Regions from separate parts of the Homo sapiens genome. Here regions 1, 3, 4 and 5 are each linked to region 2. Evidence: fine-mapped QTL for protein levels in blood plasma. Region 2 holds a variant in brackets. A gene starts in each other region. All regions are shown on their forward strands.

Region 1 (6,528 bases), not on the chromosome of region 2:
TATCTGTTTTCTCATAAGCTCCAGACGTCTCCTCACAGACACCTTTCCTAGAAATGAACAAATCAAAAGGAAGGTCACTCCTGGTAGAGATCATGGTCCTGACACTCAACCCTCCTGCAGGGCTCTTTCCAAATGCCTTGGTTTTGGGGTTTTTTTGTTTGTGTGTTTTTGTTTGCTTTTTAATTCGGAAATGAACATTTCCAAATGTCTTGTTTAATCCTCACACTAGCCCTGAGAGACCCCCATTTTCCATATGATGGAGGGACAAAGAAGAAGAGACAAATCCATGCCATCCTCCTGGCAAAGCCAGCACTAATGCCGCCTTCCTTAATCAAATCTACACATTATACTGAGGCAGGAGGAGCTGGAGTGATGAATTCCTACAGTCATCCATGTATTGTTCTGTGTCTCTCTTGCCCCAGTTTTCTCATTTATAAAATGGGGATCATGATAGTTTCTACCTCACATGGTTAGTGTGAGGGTCAACTGACACATATGTAAAGAACTTGGAGGAAGCACTATATACGAATTAGCTATTATTGTTACAATGAGCACTATTTATCCAATGGATATTTATTGGGCAGCACCTATGTGGCAAGCCCTGTGCTACATGGCAGGGATACATGAGAGAGCAAGACAGACCCCATTCCCTGGGGTTCCTGGAGCTTGCAATTGCGTGGGTCAGGCAGGCAGGTGAGAGGCAGATGCAATCAGTGTGAGAAGTACCACATGGGGGTAAGTGTGAGGTCCTCTTCGGGCACAAAGAAGGGCATGTAACCTGAACCTGGGTGTCTGGGAGGGCTTCCTGGAGGAGGTGACATGAAACCTGAGTTCTGAAGAATCCACAGGAACTAATTAGCCCAGGGAAATGAGGAGAGGTGCTCCCAGTAAAAGGGACATCAGGTGCAAGGACCTGGAGGCGTGAGAGTTCCAGAACTGAAAGCAGGTTCACGTGAGTAGGACTCAGAGTACATAGCAGAGTGTGTGGCAGGAGTTCTGGGTGCTGGGAGGGTCCTGGAAAGCCACATCAAGAGTTTGAATCTTACTCCCAGGGCATTGGGGAGTCATGGAAGGGTCTCGAGCAGATGTGAGTTTTCAAAAGGTCTTTCTGGTTACTGGGTGAAGAGGGGATGGGGTGGAAGGGTGGAGGTCAGAGGTGAGGAAAGAGTAGAGAGGTTGTGGCAGACAACCAGGAAAGAAAGGGAGGTGGCTTGGACCAGGATGGTGGCAGTGGAGAGGGGAGAAGTGAACAGGTTGGGGGGGATTTAGGAGGAGAATGGGCAGGACTTGATGATGGGTGACAGGGGAGAGAGGAGCCCAGTTCCCAGGTTGGGTCCCTGGGGGGCTGAAGTACCCACACTGGGCTAAGGAATGCCCAAGGGGGAGGAGCAGTTTGCAGAACAGGCACAGTGCTGGGACACTGCCCTCGAGGAATAGATAGGACACCTGAAAAGGGCCGTCCTGGTGGAGGAGCGTAGAGGGATCTGGGGTTCAGCGGGAAGGTCCTGACTGGAAGCAGAGATCTGCAACTTCCCAGGATGGACGGGGCTGGGAAGGTTGTGGGTCTCTGGGTCTCTCTCAGCTTTCCAGCCCCACCCTAGTGCTCACCGCCAACGAGTGCTGGTCATGCTGATCTCCGCCTCTGTAGCGCCCTCTCCCAGCACCAGCGTGCTCACTGTCATCCTGTCCATGATCTTCTTCAGCCAGGGGCAGGTGGAACCGATGGCCAGGTTGTACCACTTCCCATAGATCTAGGAGGCAGGTGAGCTCTGGGGGTCTGCATCAGTCTCAGACCTCAAAGCAGACCTGGCTGACATCTGCTCCCCACCCTCCACCTCCTCCTCTTCCTCCTCCTTCTCCTCAAAATGACTTATCCTTTTAAGGGATAATGTCTTACAACTAATCAGAGGCCACACACCTTCAAGGGAGGCCAGATCCCTAAGAGTGGCGTTTCAGGCATCACAGCGAACCCAGGAAGCAGGTGTGCGGCTGGGGTCCCAACCTGCCCTGCAGAAGGGCTAACTCTCTCAAGATGTGGGATCTGTCCATAGCTCCATCAACCACTGCTCCCCAAGAGCTGGAGTCCTGTCTTTTACTCCTCCAATGATGGGGTGCTCCCCACCTTGCAAGGCAGCCCACAGCCCCATGTTAGGAATTATTTCAAAAGTATAATGAACATGATGGGGTCATTCAGGATAGGCCTGCTTCCTCTTCCTCCTGAAAGTGCACGGGACAGCTGAAGGAGCCCTCAGGCTCCTACGGAACAGGCCAATGTGCCCCACACCCTTTGCGTCCCAGACTGCCACAGGGACCTGCTCCTCATTGCCCCTCTGCCACGACCTTTCCTTGTCCCTAAAAGTAAACAAAACCCACATGACACCACAGCTAGAAGGTTCTGAGACCCTTCATACAGACATGGAGACAGCCCCAGGTGGGCAAGGGTATTCTCAAAGCCACCCCGGGATTTAGGGCAGAGTGGGGGCTGGAAGGCAGCTCTGGCACTCCACACTCACAGGAGAGTGTCCTGCCCCAGTCCAGGTCTCTCCTTGTGCCCAAGCCTCTGAATGTCTCCCAACCCTAATCTCTGTCCTGCTTCACCTCTTCCCATAAGCCCCACATGCCCAACCCAAAAGCTGCTGGCCACATGCCCACGCTGTGCCACCCCAGGTGTCTGTCCACAGTCAGGCCAGGATGTGGGCAGGGGACACAGGAAGAGCTAAGGGAAAGATGCCACAGAGAGAGGGGAGTCATTAGAGAAGGAAGGGCTGGGAGGTCTGGGCAAAGCTAGGTGTCTGCACGGGGGCTGCAGGGCAGTGGCAGGCAGGACAAAGCCTTCTCTGGAGCAGGTTCCCATTAACACAAGGGTTCCCCTTGGAGCCCACGAGGACAGTGCAGAAGGTGAGGATGTTTGACTCATAGAATGTCAGCCAAGAGACCCACGGAATGGCAGGGGATAGAGCTGTACCTTCAAAGGATCCCATAATCCCAGATGATCTGAGTGGAAGCCTGAGACCCCGAGACAGGCCGCACTTGCCCAGCAGGGCCCATCTGCCTGGACTCCCCATCACCACATCCACCCTACCACAGAGAGCGGCAGCCTTACCCGAGAGATATTGAAGTTTTCCTGCACTTGGATGTTGTCGGGCGGCGTTGGCACAGGGCCAGCGCTCACCGCCAGGCAGGCGCTCAGCAGCAAGAGCAGGGCCCCGAGGCTCCTCATGGCTATGGGCTCCTCTGCCTTGGTATATCCCACAGGCTCGGTCTAGCAACAGAAGGGCCACCGCCTCCCTGCAACAGGGCAGCTGTGAACTGAGGCTGGGGAAGGGGCCTGTGGCTTGTAGTTGACCTCAGTGTTTGCCCTGCTCAGCTGGGGCCAATTACAGCCCCAAGGACAGCTCCAATCGATCCCTGTAGCCTGGCTGGGGTCAGCAGTACCAAGAGGCCGGGATGGCTGCTTCAGAAGAGGCATTGGCCAAGCACAATAGGGCCCTGGAGCACCAGGATTGGGCTCCGCCCCCCAAAAGTCCCCCACAGAGGGCATGCGAGGATGGGGAGCGACCTGGCCTTTCTGCTGAGTCATGCCATCTGGACCTCACAGCTCTGTGAGCCAGCAGGTCAAGCCTGATTGGGCCCATTTCTCACAGGAAAAAACTGAGGCCCAAGGAGAGGAAGTGACTTGCCAGAGACCTCAGGGAAGTCTATGGGCAGAGCCAAGACCAGAACCCAGGTATCCTGTCTCCAGAGTTCCTTCTCCAGCCCCCAGGCTTGCCCTAGCCTTTGCAAATAATAGAGACATTAACAATGATGACTGTTACGAGCTTCCGTTCACTGAGCACCTGCTATGTGCTGGCTGTGTACCAGGCACTTTACACGTGCCACAGGTGTCCAGTAAATCCCCACAACAAGCTTACGAAGTAGGTGCTATTTGTCCCCTTTACAGGCAGAGGAGTTGAGTCTCCAAGAAGTGAAGTGACTTGCCCAGAATCCCTCAGCCGGGAGTGGAGTAGCTGGGAAAGGCGTGGTAGAGACCATGGACGTGGGAGCCAGGCAGCCTACAGTGGCACTCACTGCTGTGTGACCTTGGGCAAGTCACTTTACCTTTCAGTGCCTTGGTTTCCTCATCTGTAAATGGGGATAATAATAGTTCCTAGCTCCTAGCATTGTTGAGTGAGCACCTGCAATGCGCTAGGACAGTACCCAGCATAGAGTAAGAGCTGAGTGTTTGTGGTGGGTTGAACAGTGCCCCCTCCAGAATCCATGTGCACCCCGAACCGCAGAATGAACCTGATTTGCAGATGTGATTAGTTAGATGAGGTTGAACTGGATGACAGGGGTTTTAAATCCAATGACCGGTATCTTTATAAGAGAATGGTGAGGGAGACTCAGACACAGGGACACAGAGAGAAGCACGGGGAAGATGTGGCGTGACGCCGAAGGCAGAGATGGGAGGGATGCAGTGACACGTCAAAAATCACCAAGGATTGATGGCAGCCACCAAAAGCTAGCAAAAGGCAAGGAAGGACTTTTCCCCAGAATCTTCAAAGGGAACATGGCTCTGCTGAAAATTTGGTCTCAGGTGTCTGACCTCCAGTGCTGAGAGAAGACACATTTCCTAGCAGCCCTAGGAAACTAATACAGTAGTTATTAAACTTAAGGTTTTATTTATTTATTTATTATTTTGAGACGGAGTTTCACTCTTGTCGCCCAGGCTGGAGTGCAGTGGTGCGATCTCGGCTCACTGCAACCTCCACATTCTGGGCTGAAGTGATTCTTGTGCCTCAGCCTCCCGAGTAGCTGAGATTACAGGTGCCCACCACCATGCCTGGCTAATTTTTGTATTTTTAGTAGAGACAGCGTTTCACCATATTGGCCAGACTGGTCTCTAACTCCTGACCTCAGGTGATCCTCTCACCTCAGCCTCCCAAAGTGCTGGGATTACAGGCGTAAGCCACTGCGCTCAGCCTAAATTTAAGATTTTAAATGAGAATTTTTTAAAACCCAGGTCCGTTGTCTGTGAGCTCACACTCTTGCCAGCAATACCAAAGGCCTCTCTATGAATTTCCCTTCTCCAGTGGTTAAATCTACTGTCCTTACTTCCTCCCTGCTCTTGGCATGGAACATTCCATACTCTCAGCCACCTCTCTGTTAGAGCTGGGAATGACCCCTTCGGGCAGGCAGTCCCAAGATTAAGACCCCTGCTTATGTGAGAATCAAAGGATTCCCCCATGTAGTCAGTGCAGAAACAAATGGTGTATCATGTCCCTTCTGTAAGATTCAGTCAGTACATCCCTCTTTCACTGGTATCCAGAACAAGTGTGCTTCTATTCATAAATGTGTTTCCTTTGCTCCGTCACCCTAACCTTGGCCAGTGATTATATTCCCTTCTTGCTTTGGCTGCTAGGAAGCTCAAAGCCATGATGTAAGTTTAAGCACAGTTACTGTCTTGGTTTAGCTTTCTGGGACAGTTATCTTCGTGTTCCTTGTGTTCACAAAGTTTCTCAATCTTTGATGTTTTAGTTAATGATGGTAATGAGGAGGTGGTAGCCCCCAACTTCTCCTTGTTCTGCATGATATTGGAGGTGGCTTTCCCTCGCTAAAGACCACTTTCCGTATCTGTGAACGGAAGAAAACAGTTCTTGTTCTGTCTGTCAAGAGGCCAAGAGAGACAATGTGTGAGGAAGTGAACTGTAAACTGTCCACTGCCTTACCTGTGTGGTGGCTCAGGGGTGTCTGCCATTGGAGGAGGCAGGCCTGGTATAAGAATAAATAAATAACAATGAATCATTAATAGGAATAAAATCATCCTACTAAGCCCGCTTACAGTGCACCAAGATGGCTCGCTGACCTTCATGTTGGGCCTGCGTGACTACAGTTATCAACCCCATGGTCCAGATGGGAAGCCTGAGACGCGCAGGGGTGGAGAAGCCCCAGTCCTAGCCTCTCTTGGACAGGGCTGTTCATTCAGTTGCACAGCCTCTCCTGGGGGTGGGGAGAGGCCCAGAGGATAAGTCCAGGATGTTGATTTCTTCTCCTGCCTCCAGGAATGTTTGTGCTCCTGAGATTATTAACCAGAGCAAACAGAGAGAGTAAATGCTGCCAAGGGCCACTTGGACTTTTGACTGCTTTTTAAAAATTAACCTGGGGACACAAGTTGCAAGACCAACAGTGGTCAGACAGCTGCTGCCCCCTCCTCCCCTTCTGGCTGCTGGGGTGGGAGGATGGAGGCTCTGGGGTCCCTGCCCTCCTAGGGGGCCCAGGGGTCTAAGAGTCCATGGGAATTGCTAGGTTCTGAAACCATTTGGTTGTGGGGGAGGGTCTTGCCCCTCACAGGAGGCCTCAGAGCCTCAGGGGTACCCAGTGCAATGTGGAATAGAGGCCTCGATTTTCAGATGCACATACTGGGGCTCAGGGAGGGGATGGGACTTGGTCAAGGTCACCCAGTGTGTGGCCGAGTCGGGGCCAGATAGGCCTGACTGTGGCACCCAGGCTCTCCCCTCATCATTTATTCTTGTGTCTACTTGTTCTTTT
Region 2 (6,528 bases):
TCACCTGAGGTCAGGAGTTCAAGACCAGCCTCAACATGGAGAAACCCCATCTCTACTAAAAATACAAAATTAGCCGGGCGTGGTGGTACATGCCTGTAATCCCAGCTACTCGGGAGGCTAAGGCAGGAGAATTGCTTGAACCCGGGAGGTGGAGGTTACGGTGAGCCGAGATCATGCCATTGCACTCCAGCTTGGGCAACAAGAGCGAAACTCCATCTCAAAAAAATAAAATAAAATAAAATAAAATATGACAAAGGGTTACTATTTTAACTATATGTGATAATAACCTGAAGATCCCTCCCTCAGTAAACAGATAAAAACCAAGCACTGAGAGGTTGTAACACAGAACATGCATGTGAGACACACAAATGAGCTCTTCTCCAGCTTCTGAATAGTGAGAAAAACACTGTGCCTTTGATCTTGTTCTTTGCAGCCAACACATTAGCAATGATTTTGTTTAAAATGAGAATGCTCAAAGCTGGTAAGGCTACAGTGAAACAAATACTGCTGAAGGAGTGTAAATACACCCTTTCAGGAAAAAATTTGGTAGCCTTTAATCAAGACCCTTGAAGCCTCTAATTCTACATGTAGGTCTCTATCTAAAGGAAATAGTCTCAAGTACAGAAAAAAGCCTTATGTGCTAAGATATTCTCCCATAACATTATATTGACAAGAGTAAAAAAAAAAAAAAAAAGATAAACAACCTATGTGTCCAACAGTAGCGAAATGGCTGAGTAAATTATAGTCTATCCACTCCATGAATATGAGTCATTAAAATGATATGTTCAAAGAGATTATAATAATATGGAAAACTGCTTACATAATAATTTGTATGTAGAAAAAACAGAGAGCTTGTTTATGTGGTATGGTCATAGGCATAGAAAAGAATTGCACTGAGTAAAGACTGGAAACCATGGCACCAATATATTAACAGAAGTCCTCTCTGCGTGGTAGTAGGGTTAGGTAAGATTCTCTTTTCTTCTATTTAAAATGTTTTCAACCCTTCTGATATAAACAGATATAAACATATGTTTTAATCATGGAAAACATAAACATTTTAAAAATCTGATGATACTCCTCTCCTTCAAATGTATTCTGGCTCAATTGCCAAATATCAGCTTCATGCTCCTTGATGTTCTGGAGACATCACTAGGAGCTGACTTTTATTGAAGCAGGCAGCACCATACTGAGGGCATTACATACATTATCTTACTGAATCCTGACTACAGCCTTATGAGATAGGTATTACAATTTTTTTTTCTTTGAGATGGAGTTTCACTCTTGTTGCCCAGTCTGGAGTGCAATGGCGTGATCTCGGCTCACTGCAATCTCTGCCTCCCAGGTTCAAGCGATTCTCCTGCCTTGGCTTCCCAAGTAGCTGGGATTACAGGCATGTGCCGGGACACCTGGCTAATTTTGTATTTTTAGTAGAGACAGGGTTTCACCATGTTGGTCACGCTGGTGTCAAACTGCTGACCTCAAGTGATCCGCCCACCTCGGCCTCCCAAAGTGCTGGGATTACAGGTGTGAGCTACCGCGCCCGGCCAGGTATTATTATTTTTACAGATGATGTAACTACAGCATAGAGGGATGAAGGGAAATGGTTTTTCTCACTCTGGGTACAGGTTTTCTTTTCCTTACACCTACCTGTTCTAGTGCTTTCTGTTATTCTAAGCCTTAGTATATGTTAGTCTCTTTGCCAGTAATACCCTTCCTACTTTGCTTGGCCTATTCAGCTCCTTTTCATCCTTCAAAACCCACCTCTGTGTCTCACTTCTAGGCGGAATTAGTCATTGGCTAATATGTACTTCCACAATACTGGGTTCATACATTTAACCCTGGTTTTAAACTTAACCTGGTTATAAATATGTGTTCCCAGGTTTGTCTCCTCTTAACCCCTACCTATGTCCTGCCTCCAGATTTGAGGGCAGAGAAAATTTTTTTCACCTCTGTATTCCCTATCCCTGGGCTTGACATGCAATAAGATAAAATGTTAAATAACTTTGATGACATGCATCAACTCCAGTCAATTGATTGAATCTGTCTGGATTGCTACATTGAGATGGGCTATTTTTCCAGCTTTGTGGGAAGGAGTCCTGCGATTCATTCTTGATGTCTGCCATGGGCTTGGGAATGGTAAGTACTGGCACTAAAAACTGTGTTGTCCAACCCCAGGATATGTACTCAGTAAATTTTGAGAGGCTTTGGGGAAGTGCCTGGAAGTCATAAGGGTTTCTCTTTGCTTCCAGTTGGATAATGCCTACGAGAGGCTGTCTATACAACCACTGTGACAGAGAAGATTGCAACAGGGATTCTTCATCCAAACAGCAGTCTTATCACAGCCTCCACCCAAAACCTATGCCTCCTTTTTGCAAGAGGCCACTTACAGCTTCCAAAGAGCTCTTCATGATTTTAGACACTGAGAGGAAGGAAGGAGACAGCATGAGAGAAAAGCTATTTTCCTTTTTGAGATGTTGCTTCTCACATAGCAACCCTAAAAGTCAAAGCAGCATCCTTGTCACAACTAAGGGTGTTCCCAGCACTGAGTAGAAGCTGCAACTATGCCCCCATCGCTGTGAGACTTTGACCAAGTCCCTTTCTGGCTTCAATTTTCTCATCAATGAAATAATTTCTGGGCCTCTATTTCCTTGTCTGTGAAAAATGAAGTAATAATATCTACCTATGGGGTGGATGTTTGGGTCAAATGAGAAAATATGTATGGCTGTGAACTTTATGTGGCTGTGTCCAGGTGCCAGAGATGATGATTGCTGTTGAACTGGGCTTGAAGGTAGGAGGGATTTCACCAGAAAGAAGTGAGGCTGTCCCAAGTGAGAGGAAAAGTTGGGCCTTACAGAGGGATGCTACCCAGAATTCAGAGAAGTACAGGGCTAGAGGTGCATTAAGTGCATAAAGATGTCATTACCGCATGGGGG[A/G]GATTTCACAAAACACTTTCTGTCTTTGGCCTCCTGCCCTTGGTTTCATTTTAAACACTTTCCTTTTGCTAGAGCCTTTGCATCTATCCATCTATTCATTTAGCATCTACCGCCTGCCAGGCCCACTGCTAGGTGCTGAGGTTACAGACAAGAATTTACATAATTCCTTCCTTCTATGAGTCCTCAGGCTAGTGGGAAGCAGCACAACAAATCTCAAATAACAATAACAAAAGCATGCCGTAGGATGAATAATTTCAGAGAGAAGGTGTGTGTGTGTCATCAAGAGAAAGTCAAAGGATTCACAGAGGAGCTGAATTTTGAAGCATGAGATGGTAAAAAGGAGTCTCCAGGACAACAGAGAGAAGACATGATAAAGGGCTTTCTGTACAGTGGGAAAGGCAAGTTCTGAGAGACAGCAAGGACACCTATTTTGTTGGGGGTACTGAAGTCATCATAGGACACCCTGAAGGAAAATGAGCCAAGGCCTCATGTTCACAAAGCGTTTCAATTTTAGACATTCAGTCCCAGAGACTCACTCCCTAAATTGGTCTTTTAGTTGGAGTGTTTAGTCCAGTTACATTTAATGTAATTACTGATGTAGTTGTGGTTAAGTCTACCATCTTGCTAAATCTTTCCTTTAATTTAAAAATCTTTTTTTTGAGATAGTGTCTCACTATGTTTCCCAGGGTGGTCTTGACCTCCTGGCCTCAAGGAATCATCCCACCTCAGCCTCTCAAAGTGCTAGGATTATAGGCATGAGCCACAACACCCAGCCTTGCCAAATCTTTTCTTCTTTTCCTACCTGTTTTGTTTCTTTACTTCTCCTCTCTTATCTTTTGGGTGAATTATATTATTTCATTTCTGCCTTCTTCCCTTATGTCAAGGATTATAACCCCTTAAGTCCTGCCTGTATTAACTCCCCACCAATGCTTTCAAAGAAAGAAGAGCATACTTTACACAGTTTTGGCCGGAGGTGGTGGTTCACACCTGTAATTCCAGCAATTTGGGAGGCGGAGGCAGGCAGATCACTTGAGGCCAGGAGTTTGAGACCAGCCTGGCCAATATGGTGAAACATTGTCTGTACTAAAAATACAAAAATTAACCAGGCTTGGTGGCACGTGCCTGTAGACCCAGCTATTTGGGAGGCTGAGGCAGGAGAATTGCTTGAACCCAGGAGGCAGACATTGCAGTGAGCCGAGATCATGCCACTGCACTCCAATCTGGGCAACAGAGAGAGACTCTGTCTCAAAAAAAAAAAGTCACACAGTTTTAACTGGTGTCCCAATTTCTATAGTTCTCTATGAATATATTTACTCATGGGGACCCATGGGGCAAGAAAATATATGTGTGTATGTATAAATATATATGTATATATTAATTCTGTAATTATGCTGTGACTAATACAGCTAAGTAGCATTATATTGTGTGTTACAACGTGTTAATTTATTAAACATAAATATTTAAAATATGCTATGAAAGCCTGTCTTGGCAAGTCTTTATTTTTAGTTTCTCTGGATTCTCAAATAAGAAAAATGGCCCAGGTCTCTTGATCTCTGGGAGACCCTGCAGGAGCGCCTCCTGGCTGACACAGTTTGGGGGTGACATAGAGGGTAATGTCTAGGGATTCCATTTGGTCTCAGGAAGGATATCTTCTGGTCAGGCCCTCCCTCCAGTCCCAGGCTCAGAAGCCCAGCTGTGAAGCCCTGGAGCACCTGACTTTTTTTTAGTGCACCAGAGAACTAAACTCAAGCAAGACGGGGGTGCAAATCAGAAGGCTCTTTTCTAACACGGGGTTTCTATTCGTAGGCTGTAATGGCCACATCACTTATCTAGGGCTGCCTATTCCCAGTGCCAGGGAAATAGAAGATGGAAGCAGGGATCGGGAAGGTGCTAGGTGAGCCGCAAATCAGAGCCAAGGGACGGAGGATGATTTGCAGTAGGGAGAGCAGGCACAAGGAAAGCCACCGCTGAGAACTGCCCTCTAGGGACTGAAGTGTTGTGGCACTTCCTTGGTGGTGTTCCTGTACCATACTTTCCTATGCTGACCATGTACATACATTCTTTTTGTAGGTCTGTCAATAGTGCTGATCAGTAATAGTTAGTTTTTAGTTAGAGAACTGCTGTGTGCCAGCCACTTTACATATATGATCTCTTATCCTCATTATAATTCAGTGAGGTAAGTATTGTGATCCCTGCTTTATAGATGAGGAATTAGGTTATGTGGCTTGCCCAAAGACACACAGCTAAAGGGTAACAGAGCTGATATTCAGCCCATGTCTGTCTGACTCCAAAGCCTCCACACTTTGTACTCTCAATAGTTCACAGACATGTGACCCAGGGGTTGGATATGGCCCACAGATGTGTTTTGTTTGATTCACACTTGTTTTCAAAAAAATAATCGGCTCACATCGTGTATTTTAAATTTTGAATTAGTTGCCAACATCTAACAATTGGAAGATTCATATGAAAAATCCAGGTTTTTGCATTCCCTTGAAAATTCAGAAATGATGGCAACATTCACATCAGGCAATACCTTGCTGAAGTTGGGAAGGGACTGTCCCCTCCCTTTAGCTGTGGGATATGTTCTCCACTTCACCACTCCCCCACTACCCACCTCCACTCATAGAGGATGCCTGGTCCTATAGGTTTTCGAGCTTGCAGCCCCTTTCCTGTGCTGTGCTGCTGCCTGGGAAGAGGATCCCAGGTTTCTTAAAGGGCGTGGACCAAGGCTTTCTGAACATAAAGCGATGGAATCACTGTGACACAACACCAAGCTACTATTCCAAGCATCTGAAAAGCATTCTGTTTTCTCCCATTTTAGGCCGATTTAATTAGCGATAAGGAACACCTTAGTGGCCAGCCCACTACAATCTGGTACTGCTATACTTTATAGCCATGCGGAGACAGTGTGAGGCTGAAGAAGTCAAGAAGTCGGCAGGGGCCAGGTGATGCCTCTAAGGAATTCAGTTTGTTGGGTGTTTTTTGTTTTTGTTTTGGTTTTGTTTTTGTTTTTGTTTTGAGATGGAGTCTCTCTCTTTCGCCCAGGCTGGAGTGCAGTGGTGTGATCTCAGCTCACTGCAACGTCTGCCTCCCAGATTCAAGCGATTTTCCTGCCTCAGCCTCCCAAGTAGCTGGGACTATGGGCGCACACCACCACACCCAGCTAATTTTTGTATTTTTAGTAAAGGCAGGGTTTCACCATGTTGGCCAGGCTGGTCTCGAACTCCTGACCTCAAGTGATCCACCCGCCTTGGCCTCCCAAAGTGCCAGGATTACAGGTGTGAGCCACCGCGCCTCACCTTCAGGAGTTCAATTTGGATCTTACTGAGATTGAGGTGCCTGTGTGATGTCCTGGTGGAGGGGGCTCCAAAGGGCAGCTCTACCCAGAGCTAACAAGGATGGGCAGCGCTAGGAGCCATCGGCATATGTGTGATAGAGCCTGGGAGTAGCAGACCACCCTGAGAGGATATGACAAGGGACAGAGAGCCTAGGCAGGGGTCAGTAAGGAGCACAACCGTTTCGGGATGAAGGGAGGAAGATGGAGCAGGCAGAGAGGAAGAAGAGAAGCAGCAGAAGGGAGCATTAAACCAAAAGG
Region 3 (4,000 bases), not on the chromosome of region 2:
TGGGATTACAGGCATGAGCCACCACGCCTGGCAGTTTATTTATTTTTCTGAGACAGGGTTTCCCTCTGTTCTCCATCCTGGAGTCCAGGATCATAACTCACTGCAGCCTCCAACTCCTGAGCTCAAGCAATCCTCCCATGTCAGCCTCCTGAGTAGCTGGGACCAAAGGTGTACACCACCATGCCTGGCTAACTCTTAAATTTTTTTTTGTAGAGACAAAGTTTCACTATGTTGCCCAGACTGGTCTTGAACTCCTGGCCTCAAGCAGTCCTTCCACCTGGGCCTCCCAAAGTGCTGGGTTTATAGGTGTAAGTCACCATGCCTGTCTTTCATCTCTATGTCCAATGACATATTCAGCCTTATCCAGGTTCTATCCCCAATGCATCTCCAGCTCAATCTCCAGCCTCATCTTGCACCCTGGCCCCAGCCTATCACAAGCTTCCCGCCCCACTCCACCAGCCCTCACTCACAGAGAGGCGGCGCCAGGCCTGGAAGGTCAGGGAAACATCAGGGAGCTGCTCTCCCAGGGGCAGGAGGTACAGGTTCACTCCTGGCAGGTGAGATTCCGCCTGGGGGGCAAGGTCTGTTAGTGGGGGCCAGAAGGGATTGGGGGTCTGCCCATCTCCAGCGCCAGCTGCATTAGGGGGACTTACAAAGCGGTGGGCCTGGCCCCGAACCTCGGAGAGCAGCTTCCTGGCGAGATGCAGGCTGACTGTGAACTCCCTCCGCAGCTCCTGCAGGCTCAGCTGGGGCCTCCCTGGGGGCCTTGGGAATCCCCAGACACCAGCTTGAACCAGGAGCAAGGGAAGCAGCAACAGGCTGAGCCCTGGAGAGATGGGAAGAGGGTGGCAAGACAGGGAGAGAGCTTGAGAAGGAAGGGAACATGCCTTTTCTGAGCCTGTGCTAGCTGTGAGCACGGTGCAGGCACTTTGACCAGCATCATTCCTCTGCCTCCTCAAAACCACAATGGAGGCTGGGTGCGGTGACTCACACCTGTAATCCCAACAATTTAGGAGACCGAGGCGGGCGGATCACCTGAGGCCAGGAGTTCAAGACCAGCCTGGCCAACATGGCGAAACCCTGTCTCTACTAAAAATACAAAAATTAGTTGGGCGTGGTGGTGCATGCCTGTAATCCCAGCTACTCAGGAGGTTGAGGCAGGAGAATCGCTTGAACCTGGGAGGCAGAGGCTGCAGTGAGCTAACACCACTGTGCTCCAGCCTGGGCGACAGAGCCAGACTCTGTCTCAAAAAAACAAAACAAAACAAAACAAAACAAAACCCCACGATGCAGCCAGCACGGCCCCCATATGGCATCTCCGCATGGTGTGCCCACTTTTGCAAAAAGACCAGAAGCCTGATCCTTTTTTTTTTTTTTTGAAACAGAGTTCTGTTCTATCACCCAGCCTGGAGTGTAGTGGTGTGATCACAGCTCACTGTAGCCTTGAACTCCTAGGCTCAAGTGATCCTCTCGCCTCAGCCTCCCAAGTAGCTGGGATCACAGGGACACACCACTGTGCCTAACTGTTTCTATTTTTTTGTAGAGACAGGGTCTCACTATGTTGCCCAGGCTGGTCTTGAACTCCTGGCCTCAAGAGATCTTCCCGCCTCAGCCTCCCAAATTGCTGGGATCACAGGCATGAGCCACTGTGCCGGGACAGAGACTGGATTTTGACCCCCATAAACTCCCTTGGCCAAATGCCTTTTTCAGTGAGCAACCTGCACAACCACGTGTGGCAGCCTCAGTGCTATTGTTCTCCCCAATTTGCAGGTGAGGCTCAGTGAGGTTGACTTGCCCAAGGTCAAATAGCCAGAAGGTGGGAAGCCAGGACTGGATTCCAGGTTTTTCCAAATGCAGAGCCCATGGGTTTTCCCCAGAGAATGCAGAGGGAGGCAGCCATCTGCCCCAGGAGTGGGCACACCATGTTCTGGCAAGGATTCTTTGGGCTCAGCCAAGCGGCTCTGATGGCTTGAACTGGCCATGAGGTCCCCAGGGATGGGCTGGCAATGCCAGAGGCTCTATTCCAGGGAGTCAAAAGGACAGGTTTGTCCAGTTTCCACCACGGCAGGTGGATCCTAGCAGGGTAACCTGCCTGGGGCGAATCCACAGTATGGGAGCTTTTTTTTTTTTAAGACAGATTCTCACTCTGTCACCCAGGCTGCAGTGCAGTGGCGCGATCTCGACTCACTGCAACCTTCACCTCCCAGGTTAAAGCAATTCTCCTGCCTCAGCCTCCTGAGTAGCCACCACGCCTGGCTAATTTTTATTATATTTAGTAGAGAGGGGTTTTGCCGTGTTGGCCAGGCTGGTCTCCAACTCCTGACCTCAGGTGATCCGCCTGCCTTGGCCTCCCAAAGTGCTGGGATTACAGACATCAGCCACTGCGCCCAGCCCAGAATGGCTGAATTCCGAGTGTGCTTCCTGACCTGTGTTTTCCTGGAAAGAGGGGCAGCGGATGGGCGCTCTAGGAAGAGGGCAGCATTCATCAATTTCCCCCTCAGGGAGAGGAAATCTAGCAAGCACAAGAGTTACACAATTCTCCTCGAAACACAAACCAAAACTGGCCCGAAGTCCATCCTGCTCTCCCTTCTCTCCCTGCCTCTTCCCTGTCCTCTCTCAATCTCTAACCCCTGGGCTCTGCTCTTCGAAATGTCCCCTGATAAAGGTGAAGGGGAGCTTCTAGGGACATCTACCTCCCTCGTGGGCTTGCAGATGTGGTGGGCGATGCCTAACGTAAGATCTCTGGCATTCAGACTCCCTGGTTTTGGGGCCACTCGGACCCTCTGACATCCTGGAGACTTAAGGCAGAGTGGGGTTCTTCCTAGCTCAATGTTGGGGACAGGGTGGGTGCCCCCAGGCCCTGGTGGATCAAGCCCAACCGTAAGTGAGCTGTGCCATCTCCAACCTGACCTCTGGAGACCCCAGACCCCCTCCTTACCCTCTGCAGCTGATCCTGGGTCATTGGCTCTGGCCTTTGAAGGCTCTGTCTCCATCCTCCAGCCTTTGGTCCCTACCTGCCCTACGTGGCATGTTACCTTCTCCACTGCCTACTGCTCTGGTTCTAGCCCCTGAGTTCTGCAGCCACCAGCCGCAGATTGGACCTCTTTCCAACATCAAACTAAAGACCTTTGACCCAGTGAGGCTGCTGACATCTTGGTCCCAGTGCTCCACTTGTGCCAGCACCTCGTTCTGCTCTTCCTCCAGCCGGCCCCATTCTCAGTCTTAGCCAAGCTGTTTGGCTTCTGCTTATTCACTCCAAACTCTTCATTTATCTGCCTAGACCTGGTCCTTGTCAAATTGCTGGTCCAACCCTCCCCATTCCCACTAGCCAAGGCCTCCTTCTCATCCTCTGCCCAGCCCTGGGTCAGACCACCACCCCACTGCCCCAGGCCCCCACCCAGTCATGCCAGCCTCCCTTCCCATGCAGCAGCCAGCCGAATCCTCAGTCTTGGCCAAGTTGCTGCTCTCAGCTCTCGACCCCCCATCTGCACCAGCCAAGCTCGTCCATTCTCTGCCCAAACTCAACCAAGCCCCCCACCCCTGGCTTCAAACTCACGCCAGCCAAGGTCGCCTGCCGTCTGGCCCATGGCGGGGCCCAGCCTCTTTGGTCAGCCATCTCCTGGGTAGGGGGGGTCTTATACTGGGGGCTGTGCCCGGTTTCACTTTCCGTCCTGCTTGTACTTTCAGCTTTGTGTTCACTCATTCTTCCCTCTCGCCACCCCTTGCTAAAATGGGGAAATGTAATTTCCCTTCCCGGAGGGGGTGGGAGGTATGATGGGGGGTGACGGGAAGCTGGGGTTTCGGGACATCCAAGCTCCAGACTCACTGCTAAGCTCCCACGTCCAGCCCTGTCCTCAATGTCCCATGCTTGGGTGAGCCATCCAGCCCTATTCACTGGTTGATCCCAGAGTCCCAAACCCCCTCCTGATTCTCGGCTCTGCCACCATCATCCTAGGGTCTACTGTCCTTCCAAAGATGGATAGCCAGGTAAGGGGATTGC
Region 4 (4,000 bases), not on the chromosome of region 2:
TGTATAATTCATTGTTGATCATCTCATTTCCTAATATCTTTTAACAGAATCTAATACAATGCAGTGTTATAAGTGCTCAAAGGTGTGTTGAATGAATAAGTTAATAAGTTATAGGTTAAGGCTTGCTAGCAAATGCTTCTCTCTACTAATGTTGATTATTCCTAGGCATTTATTTCACTATGATAATTTCTTCAAATGAACATATTCATGAGAGCTTGACTGTTCCTTTTTCTATTGAATATTTCTTCATCACAATATACTGTATTCCTCACTTTCCTAGTACATCGTGTAGCAGGAAAAGAACAAATGTGAAAAAGAATGTTTGGAGCAAAGTAATATATATATATTACCAGTTTTCAATGTGAATTTTTCATATTATAGCAATAAAACCATCTGTGTCATAATATTTCTCTTACTTGGAGAAAAGCACTCGTGTTCATCAAGAAAAGTTTCAATTGAAATTACTAATGAGGTATAATTTACTTGTTCAGGAAAAGTTTAAAGTAAAATCCTCAACATTTTATTATGTTAAAGACATAATTGTTTTTATTTGTATGACATAGAAACTAGCATATAAGAAAGCAAATATTAGCATATAATTTAGATTTTTCCAAAAAAGTTCTAAATTTTAATTTTATAAAATTTTTTTGCTATTAAAAATACAATTACCTCAATTATTTTTAGCCATAATACATTTAAATCGTAATTAACTAAAACCCAAAGTAACTAGATCCTTCAATAGACTAGATAGAGCATCTGTATTTTCCCTTTGAGAAAGAAGTAAATGAAAAGAAAAACATTCTATATCAGGGATTTAGTCAGTAGAGAAATTTGGAGAAAATCTTGAGTGAAATTTGTACAAATGCCCATCAACCCCCCAACCGGAATCACTAGCATTGCTCAGCTGTATGCCTCAAAGGCATTAGCTGGTTCTTTGTTACTTATAATTCATAGAAAAAAAGAGACCTAAGGAAGAGAAAGAGATTGATTCCTTTAACCTGAGAATCTTTCCTTTCATTCAAAGTAAAAAAAAATCTAAACAAAGATTTTTTATTGGGTAAATCTTAAATGAGAAAGTTAAACTCATTATACTACTTTATTTGAACATTTTGCCTAATCAAAAGTTTAACATAACTTTTTTACCAGATTTTGCTTCCAAAAATTGTGCTTTTGTAATAGATGCAGTCTATTTTAATATTAAAAAATCCAATATACTTTTAAATTTTAACAGTAGGAATACATTCTTAAAAAATTGAAAATTATTTTATTATCATACCTGTTCAATTTGCTTTAGTTTTCAGGGGTTGATGAATTTGTAAATCCTTTAAATGAATCAGAAATTCCTAAATTCTTTAACTGAGTCTCTTAAAAATCCACAGTAACTCTGTGTCCAGACAGGGCTGTCTCTTGAATTACTGTAGCAATTTAAGCAAATACAATCTTCTTGGAAAACACTCGGGTTGAATTAAAATTATGTATTTCTTTTCATTACATGAAACTTTGTGGATTCAAATTAAGATGCTTGTGTTCTTGGTCAGATTTATGTGGCTTACTTCTTTCTTTTCCCCTTAATTTTGGTTTGAGGTGTGGCAAGAATTTCCTCTAATGTGAAAGGCAAACAAAACTAAATGAAACAGCATGTACTGATTACTGTTTTTATTTTCATTTTCATGCCAAAGAATTCTTCAAATTAAGGCCCACTGTGACAGGGAACTCCAGAGTCTCAGCAACTTAAGGTGGAACTCAAAATTTCTTTTTTAATTTTTTGAGATGGAGTCTTGCTTTGCTGCCCAGGCCAGAGTATAGTGGTGCAACCTCGGCTCACCACAACCTCCACCTCCCGGGTTCAAGCAATTCTCCTGTCTCAGCCTCCCAAGTAGCTGGGATTACAGGCATGAGCCACCATGCCTGGCTAATTTCTTGTATTTTTAGTAGAGATGGGGTTTCACCATGTTGGCCAGGCTGGTCTTGAACTCCTGACCTCAGGTGATCCTCCCGCCTCCACCTCCCAAATTGCTGGGATTACAGGCATGAGCCACCACGCCTGGCCTGGAACTCAAAATTTCTTGAGTCCCTTGGTTATTCAACACCTAGGTTCATATCAGTACTTCTATTTGTTAAAACAAGAAATCAGGATTAGAAACATAACATTTCGCATTGTTTATTTTTAAAATGCACTTGATTGTCATTGCTTACACAGATTAACTATACGACTTTTCTATACAAAGGCTTACATCTTCATTTTTATCATCATTTTTATCAGCTATCTCATTTCTCCTCTTTTTGGCAGATGTACCCACTAGAATGACTTCTAATATCCTTTCAGATAAAATTAGTCAGTTGGTTGCACTCCAAAGGTGTATCTTCAATTTGCCTGTTTTTACTATTGCACAAAATAATTCTGTAGTATTGAATAAAATGGGATGAAAAGCTTATGTTACTCAATAGCTATTGCCTTTATTTTGTAGATTTAGAAAATTTCTTCATTTCATAGAGCTATCTCTCCTGAATAGTAACAGTTAACTGTTTTTAATGTTTAATTTTTACACTGTTCTCATATTCTAAACAGAGAGTTGACTTGTGTCTTTTGGCAGTAGATTCGGAGTTCATTTTGGGGGGGAATTCTTTTAAGCTTTTACAAACTAATAAGATAAAGTGAATCCTGGAGTTCATTTTGTTTCCTCAAAAAAGTGTTTTCCATTAGCTTTTTACAAAGAACTCACAAGATTTATTTTGTTAAACTTTGCATTAAGAAAAGTATACAGTGTTTCAAGTGATGCTTTGGCAGTTGTAAAAATCTAGTCTATTATTTGAGACATTGGTATGAAAAACGTGGCAGACCACACTTTAGCCAAGATTCCATCTTGTTACTGATCTTTTCCATATGTTTTCTGTTAGTGTCTTTGTTCTTAAAACTCAGGCTTTCACTAAGGAAGAGAGAGCAAATCTGTGTACTTTTTCAAAAAATTGTTTTATAGGCCTTCACAGTCCTTTTGGAAGATTAACTGAAAATCAACAGCCTAATGTTTATATAACTTCTCATTAACTCTGTGATTTGGATTTATGATATTGATTATGTTATTCATGTTTTTAACAAGTGTGAAAGAAAAATCAGTAGATAACTAGAGCAGACAGAATAAAAATGTCTAGAAAATTTAAACTGATTGGCAGTGTCTATCTAGGAGGTTTAAGGTGGCAAGGGATGGGGATGGGGGGAGGTGGTGGTAGTTAGAGTCAGGCCTTAAAGGAAAAAATAGGGGATGTGAGTTTGTAATAGTTCACTGTTTTAGTTAAGTGGTTATAATTGTAGCAATTGGGGAGAAAAGGAGTTGAATTGTTGAAAAGTGTAAATTATATGCTATGATTATACTTTGATTGAAATAGATTCAGTATCTCAAAGCTGAGTGACACAGGACTGGCTAGGAAAGGCCCTCCTGAGACCTGCTTAATTAACATAATAAGCATTACAATTTTCTGCTCATTTGTTCCACTTTATTCACTGGACACCTACTTTGTGCAGATTTTAGATGCTTGGGACTCAGCAGTGAAAGTCTCTGTTATAGAGAAGGAAAACAGAAAATAAACATAAATAAGCATAAAATGCAGAATATAAACAATGTAGAGTGCGATGGAAGAGAATAATGCAAGGTAAAGGGATAAAAATGAATGAGGCATGGGGGTACGGGTCAACAGTTCAGGCACCGCTGTATGTGGGGACTGGAATGGAACAATTAAGTTACTGTATGGCAGATGGTGAGAGCCAGGTGTCTCACCGTTGGAGTGGAAGTTACAAATAAATAAGCGAGGTGAGGTGGTGACAGTGATTCATGTGGTAATAGATTAGAGTTGAAGACATCAGTATGAACTCATATTTAGCTTAATATAGATACAGCTGGTTAAAAGGGAAATGTAATTATGTTATATACACATAGTACACACATAGACCTCCTTGCTCTGTTGGCTGAGAGATCCTACAAGCAGGAGCACTTTAAGCAGCAAC
Region 5 (6,528 bases), not on the chromosome of region 2:
CGGCAAACTCTTGCTCCAAGAGTCTTTTCAGCTCCCCTCGGGTGAGCGCTGTGCAGTTGCCCTCCGTCCTTGCATAGCGCCTGAAGGCCTCGATGATCCCATTAATGTTTTGCAGTAACTGAGGCATCTTTGAAGTCAACCTGGAAAAGATGAAAAGTTCCCTTGGAGGCTCCATAATCAACCTCAGCTATTTCCTTTATAGCACGTCTGCTGCTAGGTCTTTCCTTGCACGTTCAGCTCTGTTTTTAGTTTTCCTTTGTCCTTTCCTACATAATGCATCTTATGTATGGGAAGGAGGAGCACACAGGATGGAGGCAGGTTCCTGAGTCAGGATTAAATGCTGGCCCCACCACTTAAGTATGGTGTGAGCTGGGACAAGTTGCTTTGCCTCTCCATGCCTCAGTTTACTACTCATTGTAATTGAAGGTGATATTAGTACTCTGTGGGATTATTGTGAAGATTTAAAGACATAATTCATAAAAAGCACTTGGCAGATGCCTGGCTTATATTAAGTGCTCCTTATTAAATATAATTATTATGCTATTATATACATATACACACATATAATTTTTGTACACCTATATAATCACTTTCCTGTACATCATCTCTTCTAATCCTTATTATTTCCACTTTTTTTTATAGGTGAGGAAACAGGCTCAGAGAAGTTAGGCCACACAATTTTTAAGGAGCCAAGAAATCCTAGGATCCATTTTTCCTTAACCCAAATGCAATGGGCTTTCTAGAATGTACCCTGTGGACAGGATTTATTTATTTATCACAAGGGTGTTAGGGTCCCATCGGGAACACCAAAAGGAAGTAAATACATCTGTGAGTCAACCCCTGTCTTGGATGGGAGCCAAGCAGAAATTCCAGGGACACAGCCCTCCCTTCTTGTTTTTTTTGGGAAAGTGGGAAGAAACTGGGCTACCACCTGCTGGGAATGCTCAGGAGGGGGGAACCTTCTTTGGGTGGGAGGCCTTCCAGTTCTGAGGGTCCAAGTTTCTCTGCATGTCGCCTCTGTCCACAGCCCTGAGACTTATCAGAGAAGTCAGCTTGCCCAACAGGCACGTGGCTCCATCAGGCCCAGATTTCTGGTGACCTATGAGTTGGTTCCTAATCAAAGGGAAAGCTTTTCTTTTTCATTAGCCAGAAATCTAGAGGTAGGTTGAGGTGAGGCCTGGGTTTGGTTGCATGAGCAAAAGGAAAAGAGACTTGAAGATTCATTAAGCAGAAGCCTTGGAGAGACCCAAAGGAGGAGATGGTATCAAAGATGACAAGTCTCAAATGCAAGGGGAGATGGAGCCTGTAGCAGCTGGAAAGCCAGAGAGAGGATGGGACGAGGCAGATATAGGTAGGAGAAGAAAGAGAAAAAAGGAAGGAAGGAGACTTGAGTTCTAGAAAAAGCAGATTAGTGTGGCCATGAGGACTCAGTAAGTCATAGCAAAAGGTGGGCTGTTCAGGAGAAACCCTTTCTAGGACCTGGTAACCAACAATTTCAGGCAAACTTTTCATCAAGGTAAAAAACTGGGGATGTTTTCCTCAACATAGATGAAAAATATCTTTCTTTTTTTTTAAAACCATGTAGCAGACTTTAACCACTGACCTTTAGATAATAAAATAATAAGATGACCTTTTAGTTACATTTTAGATTCCTTAGAAAAATCTACACATATTTTGCCTAAATATCACCCTGGTGTAGGAGAGGGGAATCATGTAAACCCCTTCATCCATGACACAGTTTGATCTTATTGTCTAGGTTGGCATAAGTAAACTGATTCTGATCCCATAGACTCTCAGCACTGCAAAGAAGCTTCCAGAGCCTTAGAAAAAAGAAACCTTTGCTGATCCAGGAAGGCACATGGGTGGCCCCATAGCCGCTGCCCACACAGTTTCCCAGTGAGAGGAGCTGCTCCCAGGCCAGCCTCAGGGAGGAGGAGAAAGCCTGATTGCTTCAGGAGAGCATGTTTCCCAACGGTAGCGTTGGTTTGCCCAGTGCTCACAGCTAGCTCTGAAGGATGCATAGTCCATACCTGACTGCCCCAGTTTTATGAGCTCAGATCACCAAGACACTGAGAATGAGAAAGAGGTTTCTTATGAGGGGACTTACCTAATGCCCAGGTGGGATGAAACAAGTGGCTGTTAAGTGGTGTGAGGAGTACCAGGTCAGTGTGATGAGAACCTTTTATAGGGGTTTTAACCAAGGCTCTTGTTTTAGACAGGATATCCTGCCCTATGGGAAGGCTTGATTCATCCAAGATCCAGCCCAGCCCAGCCACACCTCCTCTTGTCTCTGTTTTACCTGCTGATGTGTGACTGCCTTGGTCTAATTAACAGGCCCCTCCTACCACATTTGGTACCTTCTGTAGCTGAGTCCTCTTGACAGGGAAGCTTCTTTCCATTGTGATGGGCTCAGCAGTGCTTGGTACAGGCTGGGGTCCTGGTGAACATTCTTTGTCTCTATGAGCCTACAAAGTTATGGGACTCTTTCCTTTTTTTTTTTTTTTTTTTTTTGAGATGGAGTCCTGCTCTGTCGCCCAGGCTGGAGTGCAGTGGTGCGATCTTGGCTCACTGCAACCTCCGCCTCCTGGGTTCAAGCAATTCCCTGCCTCAGACTCCTGAGTAGCTGGGATTACAGGTGCCTGCCACCATGCCCAGTTAATTTTTGTATTTTTAGTAGAGACAGGGTTTCACCATGTTGAACAGGCTGATCTTGAACTCCTGACCTCATGATTCACCTGCCTCTGCCTCCCAAAGTGCTGGGATTATAGGTGTGAGCCACCGTGCCTGGCCACTGTTTCCTTTTTTAATATAAATGTTCAAGAATATATCTATTGAGGTTAACTTTTACAAAGTAGCCACTCTGAGAGGGCACACATGTTTTTGTGGTGATGTTACTTAGAACTGTTATTACTTAGAACATTTTTTGAATTCTTGTTTTGTAAGTGCCTTTCACACCTAGTGTATGAGACACAAGAAAGCCAGTTTCATCTCTTTAAAGTTGGTCTCATTTTTAATTAAAACAAAAAAAGTTAATACCTTCCCCACCCCATGCTATGGGTAGGTAGCATTTTGTAGCTGATGAGAAAAAAGGCTTACCATGATCATGTGGTAACTCCTCATTGCAAGGACAGGAAACTCAACTGGTGGCTAATCAGCAAATATTTATGGAAAGCTTGCTCCATTTCAGGCAGAGGGCTAAGGCCCTAGGAATACAGTGTTGAATACGATGGCAGCAGTTTCAACTCTCATGAAGTCTATAGCCTGGCCATCCCAGGGGTAAGTCCCCAAGAGGTTAATGATAATGGTATTGCCATTTCATTTCATTTGATTTTATTCCATTTTCATTACCATCTCATCTTATTTGATCTCCCTAGCAATCCTCTGAGGTGGTATGGCTAAGCCCAATTCATAAATGAGAACACTGAGAAATCCTCAGAGAAGTAGCCACTCTGTGAAGCGGAGACGGTGCTGGACTAGAGCCCCTCAGACTCCAGGCCTGTGTTCTCTCTGTTGCACCATGCTGCCATTTATTCTTCTCTCATTGAGTTTTGGCACCTTATGAACATCACACTTATCCTCAATGCATGAAGAACCATTCCTGAGGAGGAAGTTTTCTGAGCTCAGAAGCCAAGTCCCAAAGAGTGCTCTTGAGTGGCACTTTGCAGATAATATATACTGTGTAGCTTCCTGAGTGACTCTGGAAGGGAAAGCCATCTTTACCATCCTCACTTATAGATCAGCATGCAACAGACAGGAAAGGGAACAACAGGATAGGAAGGCATGGTAAGGGCCTTGGTTGAAGAGACTGGTGTATTGAGGGCAGCCCTGTAGCAACAGCACAGCCTCCAGCACTTCCCCTCAGGGCACAGAGCACTGGGGAGTTCCAGACTGCAGGAGGGCAGGATGCAGGCTTTGTGTTTGGAGAGATCTGTCTACATGGGGACAGGTTGGCTCCAGTCCTGGGGTGAAGGTGGGGTAGGCATACCAGCCAGGGAAAAGCAGAGTAGGGGCTTCAACCTTTGGGAGCAAGAGGGGGCTGAGGTTGCTTCTGCCTGATCAGAGTTAGAAGAAGGCCAGTATGAGAGGGTGAAGTTGGAGAACAAGAGGGAGAGCCGATTAGACCTTCTTCTGTGGTGGTGTTTGAAGCTTTTTCTGATGGGGCTTAGAACTTCCAGAAAGGTTTGGGAACTGAGGGTAAGTTAGGGAAGTAACAAGCCAGAGGCTGTATCTAGAAGATGAATATTTGGTAGGTATTATTAACCCAATTTATAGATGAAGAAACCAAGGCACAGAGAGTAAGTAAGTAAACTTAAGTAAACTACCTAAGGTCACATAGCTAGGAAGTTAGACCTGAATTTGAACTTAGGTCTGCCTGCCTCCAAAGCCTAATAGGTCTTTATGTGTGCCTGGGGCAGGACTGAGCTGTGAGGAGCTGGGGCACCATAGAAGTAGAGGTTAAAGAACTGTATGTGTGTGCTGGGCCAGTGGAGGTGGGTTGAAGTGTGCAGGTGGGGCTGGGGGAGATGAGTTGGCAGAGATTGGGACTGAGCCTGTAATTGACTGTGTAAGTTTGTTAGTTTATAAAGTTGGTGAGGAGATGTTATAAGTTAGTGTGCAAGTTGTCAGAATCAAAATGGAGTCACTTGTCTTCAAAAAAATCCTTGACAAATATAGAGCTAAGGAAGGCTGCGAAGAGAGAGTTCTCATGCTTGTACACCTGATAACACAACTATCACAAAAGACTGCAAAAACCACAACCTTACACAAAGGCCATAATAGCCTTACACAACAAACACTTCTGTGAGGACATCAGTCCAGCAGCTGCCTGTCCAACTTCATATTAGCATCACCATTGTTATTGATCTTTGTAGCCAAGAATACACATTTCAATAAAATTATGTAATTTTCATTGTTTTTCCTGTAAGAACTTTTGTTTTCCTTTACCTCCTGAATATGCACGTAGTTTACTATGGCACATGTATTCCCATTGCAATGCCCTATTCTCAAATAGGTAACTTTTTTTTTAAGAGAGATTCACTGTGGTTATTATTTAAGTTGACATTAGTGAGTCTACTTAGCAGTTACATTTTACGGGTATGCTGGAGGGCAGTGAGACCAGGTGCTGGATCAGCAACTCAGCAATGAAAACCCAGTTTTGCACTTTGACTCCTTCTTATACACTTACTCAACAATGTATTGCTGACCTCTACTTGATTTATTTCTACAAGATACAAGCAGTATTTGCCACACTTAGTGGGCTATAAATTAAGATTGCTTTCCAGAAAATTAGCCCAATTGGGCAAACAGGCTTTACACACCAAAAATAGTTATTTTAAAATGAAAAGTAGAAATTTTTAGAATGCTAACTAAAAAATATTGTCAAATATCACAAGGTCTGGGGTAAAGAATCACTGCTCAGGAATATGAGAGATCAGGGTCTATGTCAGCAACACCCCCTACCTGTGCTTGTTTTGGTTTGCTAGTTTTATTTTACTTTATTTTATTTGCTAAGTGCCTACTATGTACAGACACTGTGCTAAAAACTTACACATATCATTTTATTTAACCCTCACAACAACCCTATGGTAGCAAAGATATTATCCCAATTTCATAGATGAAGAAATTATCATTAACTAACTTAATTTTCCAAAGACAGAAAATAAATGGTAAAGGCAGGATTTGAACCCAAACCTGTTCAACTTCAGAGCCCAGCATCTTAACCTCTCTGCTTTGCATCTTGGCTGAAGTTTCTTATCTGAAGTCTGGAAAATTCCCTTTGACTTAAACCCAGCTCAACATGGTATGTTCCAGCTTAAACACTACGTGAACTAGCTATGGGACCACAGAGAGTAACAAACAGGGCAAGTTCTCAAATCCAGAGGCCCTGTGAGATGCCGGGGACAAAGCCCAAGGAAATAATCTCTCTTCATACTGACAGTTCTCCTTCTTCCCCCTTCCCCTTTGTTCAGTGGCAAAATCCAGAATGTTTGGCAAAAGCCTCTATAAGTTCAGCCAGGGGGAACAGCTGGGCTTTCATGCAGGTGGTGCTTTTCTTTGGGTTCCCTCCAGTCCTACATCATGATCGTTATCTCCTGACTGCCCCAAACAGCTATGTACTTACCACACACACACATACACACACTCGCGCGCGCATACACACACTCGCGCGCACGCGCGCGCGCACACACACACACACACACACACACACACATACACACACAGAGGCCGAGGCAGACTGCTCAGCAGGCTAAACTCCGTCTGTCTAATGAAGTGTCTCTTCCAGTGCAGCTTCATCAGTGTCTGCTGTCAGGTCCTGATTGGCTGGTGGATGAAGGGGACAGGGAGACACCATGGTAAGCTACATGGATCCTCTTGGGTCAGGTGGCAGGTAACTGTTAACCCTGACATGGCTGCCTTTAAATTTCTGCCATTACAAATGCAGCCAAAAACCCAACCCTTAAAGAATGCTGCTCACCAGACATCTTCACCTTCACCCAGGAGCACACAACGGTAATATGGGACAATGAA

Alleles and levels. Positions count from the first base shown, and alleles are read on the strand shown. Strength reflects both the effect of a copy and how common the allele is.
For the plasma level of the protein whose gene starts at base 3,311 in region 1, allele A in region 2 goes with a lower level than allele G (strong association).
As copies of A replace G in region 2, the plasma level of the protein whose gene starts at base 3,610 in region 3 goes down (strong association).
For the plasma level of the protein whose gene starts at base 1,546 in region 4, A is the low allele of the variant in region 2 and G is the other (strong association).
In carriers of allele A in region 2, the plasma level of the protein whose gene starts at base 2,157 in region 5 tends to be higher than with G alone (strong association).

Evidence for each region. PIP is the chance, under the fine-mapping model, that this variant and not a neighbour inherited with it causes the effect. Protein levels are from antibody-based Olink assays in UK Biobank. Linkage for the fine-mapping came from a reference panel and not from the study's own genotypes, which makes the PIPs less certain.
Region 1: AMBP starts here. The variant in region 2 is fine-mapped to the plasma level of the AMBP protein (UK Biobank, PIP above 0.99).
Region 3: IL27 starts here. The variant in region 2 is fine-mapped to the plasma level of the IL27 protein (UK Biobank, PIP above 0.99).
Region 4: it holds the start of OMD, and the variant in region 2 is fine-mapped to the plasma level of the OMD protein (UK Biobank, PIP above 0.99).
Region 5: CRNN starts here. The variant in region 2 is fine-mapped to the plasma level of the CRNN protein (UK Biobank, PIP above 0.99).

The regions. Positions count from the first base shown.
Region 1 is chr9:114,074,990-114,081,517 of GRCh38, forward strand. AMBP (alpha-1-microglobulin/bikunin precursor) reads right to left here and starts at 3,311. Exons shown (of 10, transcript NM_001633.4): 1 at 3,104-3,311; 2 at 1,609-1,751; 3 at 1-47. The coding sequence starts at 3,220. LOC107987120 (a long non-coding RNA gene) reads right to left here and starts at 6,080. Exons shown (of 3, transcript XR_001746905.1): 1 at 5,846-6,080; 2 at 5,709-5,751; 3 at 4,951-5,613.
Region 2 is chr17:28,409,176-28,415,703 of GRCh38, forward strand. LOC124903964 (a long non-coding RNA gene) reads left to right here and starts at 1,527. Exons shown (of 2, transcript XR_007065688.1): 1 at 1,527-2,136; 2 at 2,250-4,406. RefSeq lists an enhancer at 1-32. The variant A/G (reference allele first, on the strand shown) is at 2,934.
Region 3 is chr16:28,503,225-28,507,224 of GRCh38, forward strand. IL27 (interleukin 27) reads right to left here and starts at 3,610. Exons shown (of 5, transcript NM_145659.3): 1 at 3,557-3,610; 2 at 654-826; 3 at 471-569. The coding sequence starts at 3,587.
Region 4 is chr9:92,422,926-92,426,925 of GRCh38, forward strand. OMD (osteomodulin) reads right to left here and starts at 1,546. Exons shown (of 3, transcript NM_005014.3): 1 at 1,277-1,546. All of the region lies in intron 5 of CENPP (centromere protein P), which reads left to right.
Region 5 is chr1:152,412,107-152,418,634 of GRCh38, forward strand. CRNN (cornulin) reads right to left here and starts at 2,157. Exons shown (of 3, transcript NM_016190.3): 1 at 2,108-2,157; 2 at 1-140. The coding sequence starts at 127.